Regions from separate parts of the Homo sapiens genome. Here all the other regions are linked to region 1. Evidence: fine-mapped expression QTL. A gene starts in region 1. Each other region holds a variant in brackets. All regions are shown on one strand. Distances are from middle to middle.

Evidence for each region. PIP is the estimated chance that this variant, and not a neighbour inherited with it, causes the effect. A credible set is the group of variants that fine-mapping cannot tell apart.
Region 2: its variant is the best candidate, but not a certain one, in a credible set for the expression of PARP1 in left ventricle (GTEx, PIP 0.89).
Region 3: its variant is the best candidate, but not a certain one, in a credible set for the expression of PARP1 in non-classical monocytes (Schmiedel 2018, PIP 0.81).

The regions. Positions count from the first base shown.
Region 1 is chr1:226,406,507-226,409,262 of GRCh38, reverse strand. PARP1 (poly(ADP-ribose) polymerase 1) reads left to right here and starts at 1,170. Exons shown (of 23, transcript NM_001618.4): 1 at 1,170-1,453. The coding sequence starts at 1,334. RefSeq lists a cis regulatory region at 575, enhancers at 503-647, 826-955, 2,546-2,605 and silencers at 986-1,245, 1,496-1,595.
Region 2 is chr1:226,362,680-226,365,435 of GRCh38, reverse strand. It overlaps PARP1 (poly(ADP-ribose) polymerase 1), which reads left to right. Exons shown (of 23, transcript NM_001618.4): 19 at 282-434; 20 at 1,366-1,493; 21 at 2,276-2,337. Among named protein-coding and RNA genes, the nearest start is that of PARP1, 44 kb to the left of the region's middle. The variant C/T (reference allele first, on the strand shown) is at 1,069.
Region 3 is chr1:226,348,906-226,351,661 of GRCh38, reverse strand. No RefSeq gene overlaps it. Among named protein-coding and RNA genes, the nearest start is that of LIN9, 41 kb to the right of the region's middle. RefSeq lists an enhancer at 1,479-1,979. The variant G/A (reference allele first, on the strand shown) is at 1,495.

The DNA of each region.
Region 1 (2,756 bases):
TACAATCTTTGAAATGAAAAAAAAAAATGCATAGGATTAGAAAAGAAACCAATTTTAATAAACTATATTTTGAAGTATAGTTCTATATTAAACAACAAGATCTAGGCCAGGTGCAGTGGCTCATGCCTGTAATCCCAGCAATTTGGGAAGTCGAGGTGGGAGGATTGCTTGAGGCCAGGGGTTCAAGACCAGCCTGGGCAACATGGAGAGATTCCCCATCTCTTTCTTTACACACACACACACACACACACACAAAATATCTGATAGCAACAGGTGCAGTCATTACCACAATTTCGAGTAGTGATGAGCTTAATAATATTTCGAGTTATCACCAACAACTGTAAAGTAACATGAAAACGTCTGTGATGACTATTGCCCACAAAGTCACAGGTACTGCTAATACTCCTGGTATTTGTAGTCAAATTCATAATAAAGGAAATGCTAGGTTTCAGTTGGTATTTTGTCCCGACGGTCTGTGGACGGCAGGTTAGAACGCCCGTCCAAGCCAGGAGGGTGGACCTAGCACTGCAGGGTCCACCTCGGGCCAATCAACTATATTCCCGAGGCGGGGGCCTGCGCTTCCCGGACCCAGCTGCCCTCAGGGGAGAGAGGACACACTTAAGAGTTTGGGGCCGGCGTGGTAGCTCATGCCCCTGATCCCAGCACTTCGGGAGGCTGAGGCGTGAAGATCACTTGTAGCAGGAGTTTGAGACCAGTCTAGCCAACTTGGCGAGACCCTGTCCCTAAAAAAAATTTTTTTTTAATTAGCCAGTTGTGGTGAGCGCCTGTAGTCCCAGCTACTCGGGAGGCTGAGGTGGGAGGATCGCTGGGCTCAGGAGTTCCAGACTGCAGTGAGCCATGATGGCGGCACTGCACTCCAGCGCGGTGAGACTCAGTCTCAAAAATAAAAGGGGGAGGGGTTGGGGGTAAAATTAGTTGTGAAATCAAGTAAGACTTCCTGGGACAGAACAATCAAAGGGGTGGCGCCGGGTCCTCCAAAGAGCTACTAGCTCAGCCCAAGCCCCGCCTCGGCCCCCAGGGCAGCGGCCCGCAGAGCTCCACCCGGCAGGCGCCCGGGAAACTCCGCCCCCCGGCCGGCAGGGGGCGCGCGCGCCGCCGGCCCCGCCCCGTGGACGCGGGTTCCGTGGGCGTTCCCGCGGCCAGGCATCAGCAATCTATCAGGGAACGGCGGTGGCCGGTGCGGCGTGTTCGGTGGCGGCTCTGGCCGCTCAGGCGCCTGCGGCTGGGTGAGCGCACGCGAGGCGGCGAGGCGGCAGCGTGTTTCTAGGTCGTGGCGTCGGGCTTCCGGAGCTTTGGCGGCAGCTAGGGGAGGATGGCGGAGTCTTCGGATAAGCTCTATCGAGTCGAGTACGCCAAGAGCGGGCGCGCCTCTTGCAAGAAATGCAGCGAGAGCATCCCCAAGGACTCGCTCCGGATGGCCATCATGGTGCAGGTGCGGGCCGCTGTGCGGGCGGCGGGGCGGGGACGCGGCGCCCCGGGTTAACTGTGTCCGGGAAGGCTGGGGGAGGGCGGGCCCAGGGAGCGAGCGGGCCCGGGCCCTCGGAGCGGCACTTGGGGCCTATGGGGCCGCGGCCGCCCCTCCTCCCGAGCGGCCCGGCCGACCCTTCCGGAAGGTTTTGCTGATGTTGCAGGAAAAGCCCGGGAAATAAAGTCTGCAGCTGGTGTTGCCTTTCGCTTTGTGAAAACGAGGAGCCTCTTCTCTTCTCCTTTCTGGGTGGCGGTGTTTTATTACTGCCGTTCGCCTCAGGGGTTGGGGGGGAATTGTACATGGTCTCTTTAAGCTAATCTGATTTTGACCTATCTTGTTCTGGAGGGTTTTTGTTCTACATGGATGGTGGCGACTGACATGTGGGTTTTTTTTTTTTTTGTTAAACCTATTTTTGGCAGTCATTTCAACACGTCATTTAAACGCTCACTCTCATTTTTTATTTTAATTAGGCAGAACTATGCAGAAAGGTGTCATTTCTGTACAGTACATTCACTTTGAGCCTAATTTGTGCTTTAAAGTAACATTTTCCCCAAATTTTCCAGATTCACAGACGCGTTCTCTTGGTGCATTTGCAGCTGTCTGGTTTGAGTAAGAGTGGCTCCAGGGGGGTTTCTCATGTGGGCTTTTTGATAGATTGAATCCCCTTCTGAGGTTTCCTGAGCCTTCTGTGAGGTGGTGGGCTTGAAGGCCCCTGTCATTTCCCAGGGGCTCCTGCCTCCAGCTTCCAGTTTGCCGATGTCTACCTTTGTATTAATAATTCTGGTTCTCATCTGCCCTGTTCCTCCTCGCTTCCAACATATTACCCAAGCTTAGTGCTCATGGTCAAGGTAGCTTGATTTTCCTCCCTTCCATGAGCTGTAATGTGTTTTAGGAATGACCAGATATCCCTCAGTGGATTTTCAGTACTTAGTACAAGGGAGGGCGACATTTACCGAGTGGATACCCAAGTGCCAGGTGTACTTCCGTTATCTTATTTCACAATATGCCTGTCATCTTGGTGTCCTCGGGGCATACCTAAGTCAGTACGTGGCACACAGTGCTTATTTGGTAGGCATTTTTTAAGTTCTAAGCACTCTGTTAGGTTTTAAGGACACAGAATCCACCTTTGGGAATTTCCAGTTTGGTTAAACGGGAAATGACTGGTAAACAAACGTTACCGTAAGAGAGGATGGATGCCACCTGATGGAGCTGTGCTCTAGGCATTGTGTGCCTAGGAGTCCGAGATGACCCAGCTAAGGGTGGAAGC
Region 2 (2,756 bases), 44 kb after region 1:
ACCTGGTCTCAGAACATAGATTATCAGATGTCCAAGATAAAGTTCCTCAAGTGCACATCTGCTGCACAGTAATACTAACCAGCAATGGCTGGGCGCTGCTGGGCAGGACCTGGACCTTCCATCCCAGCCTTGTGGAAAACACTTTTTACATTGCAGCAGACCTTAAGTCTTCTAGCCTTAGGGACAGCCGGTCATTTCTCGTGTATCCAGTCCTGTCTTTCAGTCAACCAGAGTAACAAATGGCTTCTTTTGTCCTTCCCTTTGTTTACTACTCCAACCAGATCTTTAAGATAGAGCGTGAAGGCGAATGCCAGCGTTACAAGCCCTTTAAGCAGCTTCATAACCGAAGATTGCTGTGGCACGGGTCCAGGACCACCAACTTTGCTGGGATCCTGTCCCAGGGTCTTCGGATAGCCCCGCCTGAAGCGCCCGTGGTATGTGCCTGGCCTGGCGAGGGGTGGGCAATGCCTGTCTCTGCAGGTGTCTCCATAAAGAACTTTGAGCAAGAGGTCTAGTTGGTTTAGGGGGATTCTGCCAGACATCCTTTCTTTGGGCCTTCACCCTTTTATCCTCCTGACCCTAACCCTGTCAGGGGTTTCAAACACAGTTTCTGGAACAAAGGAGGCAGAGCATCCAGGCCAGGGCCTGCTGCAGATGCTAATCGGGTGTGTTGACAAGCAAAGAACAGACACGTGGCTACAGGCCAAGCTGAGTCCAGGCTTATCTCTACCACTTCCCAGCCGGGCCACCTCTGAGTGTCAGTGTCTTCAGCAGGAAAACGTAGCGATGAATGAGTAAGGCTTTACCTAGACACGAGGGATCGTGATGCCACCTGCTGGATTCTAGATGGGTCCACCTGGACAGGACCTTCTAAGCCTCTTGTTTCACAGTTGTAGAATGAGGAGGAGAGAAGTTTAAATGATTCTCTCTGGGGCTGTGCAGTAGTGTATAACGGGCAAATGGCCTACCCTTTGTGAACCTCGTGTTTCATTTACAAAAGGGAATAAAAATACCAGCCTGCATTCCTTGGGTGTTGACAGGCGCTAGTTTAAGTAACACTGATGAGCT[C/T]ATTCCGTCCTCATGGCAGCTCCATGAGACTGTGTTCCCCATTTGAGAAAAGAGGCAAGTAGAGTCCAGAGAGGTTACGTAGCTTCTTGCAGCTCCTTGGCACCTGGCAGAGCTAGGATCTGACAGCCTGGCTTGTGAGCTAAAACTTTGGTATTTCCTCACCATGGGCATTGTGAGAATTAGAAGTGATGGATTGCAGCACTTAGCTGGGTGGCTTGCTCAAGTTGGCACTCAGTGAACAGCTGCTCCTAATTTCCCATCAGAAGATTCTCAGCTCTCCCTTTTCCGACCTTCCAGACAGGCTACATGTTTGGTAAAGGGATCTATTTCGCTGACATGGTCTCCAAGAGTGCCAACTACTGCCATACGTCTCAGGGAGACCCAATAGGCTTAATCCTGTTGGGAGAAGTTGCCCTTGGAAACATGTGAGTAAACCTGGCTCTGGGACTGATGGCATTTCATGGGGACAGGTGGAATGGGCTATAGGCAGAACTCCCCTTGGCTGGGAGAGTAGAAATTCCCCACTGCAGTTACTGGACGCACCAATTAGGATTCTTTTCTTATAAGTAGCAGAATCCAATTCAAGTTAAGGGAACAAGGGAGATACAAGGATACTTCAGGAAATGCAAGGGCAGGAACGCAGCCAGGCCTCCAGAGCTGGCAGTGTCTTCTCTCCATGGACTGGGAAGCAGAGAGATTGAGTTGCACAAAGGATGATCCCCCAGGCCGCCTCCTCCACTCACCAGTGTTTCAGTTTTCTTAGACCAACCCAAATGGAACTGGAATTTTAATTCCACTTCCAGATTCTCCATAGAGAAAGATCTGATTAGTCCAGCTTGATTTGGACATCGACCCTAGTCCTGTGAACTGTAACCAAAAGCACAAGGTCATGTAAAAGGCCAGGGGTCTGGGGACTGTGGAATGTGGACGGAAACCTAGAGCTGCTGACCACCACTCCAAATAGGGCCTTGCCTTGAAAATGGCCCCATAGCAGTGATCGCTGGGCACAAACTATGTTCAGCCGCAACTGCAGTTTCAGGTTCTGGAACAGTTCCAGAAACTCAGGAGGGAGCCTGAGCAGTTTAGATGGTCTGGGTTTTGTGGACTTTTATCTCATCTCTGTATCTGATCTTATTCTCCTAATCAAACTGTTGGTTTCGAGAGCCCAGTGTGAAGGCCTCTTCTGAGACTGTCCTCTTTTGAATAGGTATGAACTGAAGCACGCTTCACATATCAGCAAGTTACCCAAGGGCAAGCACAGTGTCAAAGGTAAAGTGTTTCCAAAGCTGTTGCTACAGCCCGAGGCACCCTGGACAGCACAGAAGCCGGGGGCTTGCTGTCCTGAGAAGGCTGCCTTGTGGCTGGCTGTCAAACAGCTGGAGATTCATTTTATCTTTTCGAGGGGTGTGTGTGCGTTGTTGTTGTTGTTTGGGGGGTGGTGGTGGTGGTTAATATGCTGCAACTGACCATGATTGGAGGTTCATTTTATTTATTTTTGTAAAAAAAAAAAAAAAATAGGCAAGCTCTATAGCAGGAGGTTCATTTTTAAAAACAGTTCACTCTCTGTGGCTGCAGCTGGTATCACAGATGCCACAGGAGAATCTTGGTGCAGGCACCAGTAACCAGATGCACGGGTTTCGGCTTTAACCTAACTTGTAGCTACAGCAGTGAGGGACCTCTCGTGACAT
Region 3 (2,756 bases), 58 kb after region 1:
AGCCTTCCGAAGTGCTATGAGCCACCACGCCCAGCCCTCATTCTATTTTATTTTTTTTTGAGAAGAGTCTCGTCCCGTTGCCCAGGCTGGAGTGCAGTAGCACAATCTTGGCTCACTGCAACATCCGCCTCCCAGGTTGAAGCGATTCTCCTGCCTCAGCCTCCCAAGTAGCTGGGACTACAGGTGCATGCCACCACACCCAGCTAATTTTTGTATTTTTGGTAGAAACAGGGTTTCACCATGTTGGCCAGGCTGATCTCGAACTCCTGACCTCAGGTGATCTGCCTGCCTCGGCCTCCCAAAGTGCTGGGATTATAGGCGTGAGCCACAGCGCCCGGCCCCTTGTTCTATTTTAAACCTTTCAACTACTGCACTTGCTTATCACACTATATGTACATACATTAATTTGATAAAATTTGGAAATTAGGCCAGGTGCTGTGGCTCACTCCTGTAATCCCAGCAGGAGTTCAAGACCAGCCTGGCCAACATGGTGAAACCCCATCTCCACTAAAAAGATACAAAAATTGGCGAGGCACATCATTGCCTGATGCATGATGCAATTTTGTGAGAAAAAAAAAAAATATATATATATATATATATGCATTTTAGAAAAAAGGATTGAGAAGAAAACCCCAAAATGGAAAAGTAGTAGTCTGTATGTGGTAAACATAAGAGTAATTTTAATCTTTGGGGTTTTTCACATTTTTTCACAATAAGCCTGTAAAATCAGATAATAAAAACCATCAACCTTTTAAATAGGATTGGGAAGTCTCTATTTTCCTGTCACACTCTCATTATCCCTACTGTTTAGCACACATAAGCACTGGGCTTGGGTTCCCCAAGTCCCTTCACTTTCCCGTTGTTAACTGTGGTGCCCTCAGCCCTGGATGGAAGGCACTGTGGCTGGGGACGTGGGCACCAGGGGTGGCTTCTGCTGGTGCCTCCTCTCCACAGCAAGCTTCTCCTGGTTCCTCCGGCTCCATAGCACTGGCCATATCGAGGTTGCCAAGCTCGTTGCCAGTGCCGGTTACCTCCAAGAAGCTCCTGGCCTTTACTCCCAGAACGCACACCTGAAAGACTGCTGCTGGCCTCGGTTTCTAAGGAAACTTTCTTCAGGCCTCATCCCCTGGCGGAACATAATTACCCGCTGGAGAGAAACAAAGCGGCACTTATTTTTCTGCTTGAATCACTTCCAAAGGGCTTATTGTCATTTCTGACTGGGACGTTGGGTTTTGTGGAGGAGAAGGTCCCCTTGGCCAAAGGTAGGCTCTGAGATAAGGAAATCAGGAAACCTGCCGGCTGACTGAAGATAAGGGAGCAGCGGCCTGCGGAGCAGGGCTCCCCATAAGAACGCTGTACAGTTCTGGCACCTCAGGAACTTGCCCACATTTGCTGATTGCTAACAGCTGCCTGCTCCCCGTAACAACAGGCAGGAAACCTCTAGAGTTGTAAAAGGGTCTGTTTATTTGCCTTTAATAGCCACGAGAAGGGGAA[G/A]CAGGGGAGTCTGGGCCCCATGCTGCAGCCCTGGAGGCGAAGCGTGGGTGGAGGCCTGGGTCAGGGCCTCCGGCAGAGGAGAGAAGGAGGCAGGATGGGCCTAAGGAGTGCAAAGTTCAGGGTGGAGTTCCCAGCACAACCCCACACCCTCAGTGAACCCCAAGAAGTCTTCCTTAGAACCCAGGATCTCGCCAGGTGCAGTGGCTCATGCTTAATCTCAACACTGGGAGGCTGAGGCAGGAAGATGGCTCGAGGCCAAGAATTTGAGACCAGCCTGGGTAACACAGCAAGACCTTGTCTCTACAAAAAATAAAAACATTTTAAAAATTAGCCGGAGGCCGGGCGCGGAGACTCACTTCTGTAATCCTAGCACTTTGGGAGCCCGAGGCAGGTGGATCACTTGAGCTCAGGAGTTCAAGACCAGCCTGGGCAACATAAGGAAACCCTGCCTCTACTAAAAATACCAAAAATTAGCTGGACGTAGTGGCAAGCACCTGTGAACCCAGCTACTTGGGAGGCTGAGGCACGAGAATCGCTTGAACCCGGGAGGCAGAGGTTGCAGTGAGCTGAGATCGCGCCACTGCACTCCAGCCTGGGCAACAGAGCGAGACTCCATCTAAAAAAGAAAAAAAAAAATTAGCCGGGCATGATGGTACAGGCCTTTAAGTTCCAGCTACTTAGGGGGCTGAGGCAGGAGAACTGCTTGAGCCCAGGAGGTCAAGTCTCCAGTGAGCAGTGTTTGCACCACTGCCTGGGTGACAGAGCGAGACCCTGACTGATAAATAAACCCCGGGACCTCTCCGTTTTGGGTCCTGTTTGTACAATGAACCCACCTGGCCATGCTGTGCTCTGTCCTTTCTTTCACTCTCGGGTGATGAATGGGGCCTGCAGCAGGTGAGCCCCAGGGGCGAGGACACACAGAGGTTTCGTTGCCCATGTGTGACAGACCCACAGGTCGTATCTGCTTCCCAAGGAGTAGGCTCGTTGTTCCTCTTCCGCAGTGCCTTCACGCCACAAAGCACTGTCCTCTCCCATCCTGAGAGGCCCCAGGAAGGGAGGCCCCCCCACCACCCCAACACACAGACGCCATTTGGTCAGCACCTCCCAGTAACACCCAGACTTCTAAGGCAAGGGATGGTGGTGCCTGAGCCTGACTGTTCTCTTCACAGCCCCTGCTTGTTCCAAAGGTGATCAAAGGGGTGGCAAGAAGTAAAACTGGCAGCGTTTCCAGGCCAGGAAAAACACCTGGGCCCTGTTTTTAA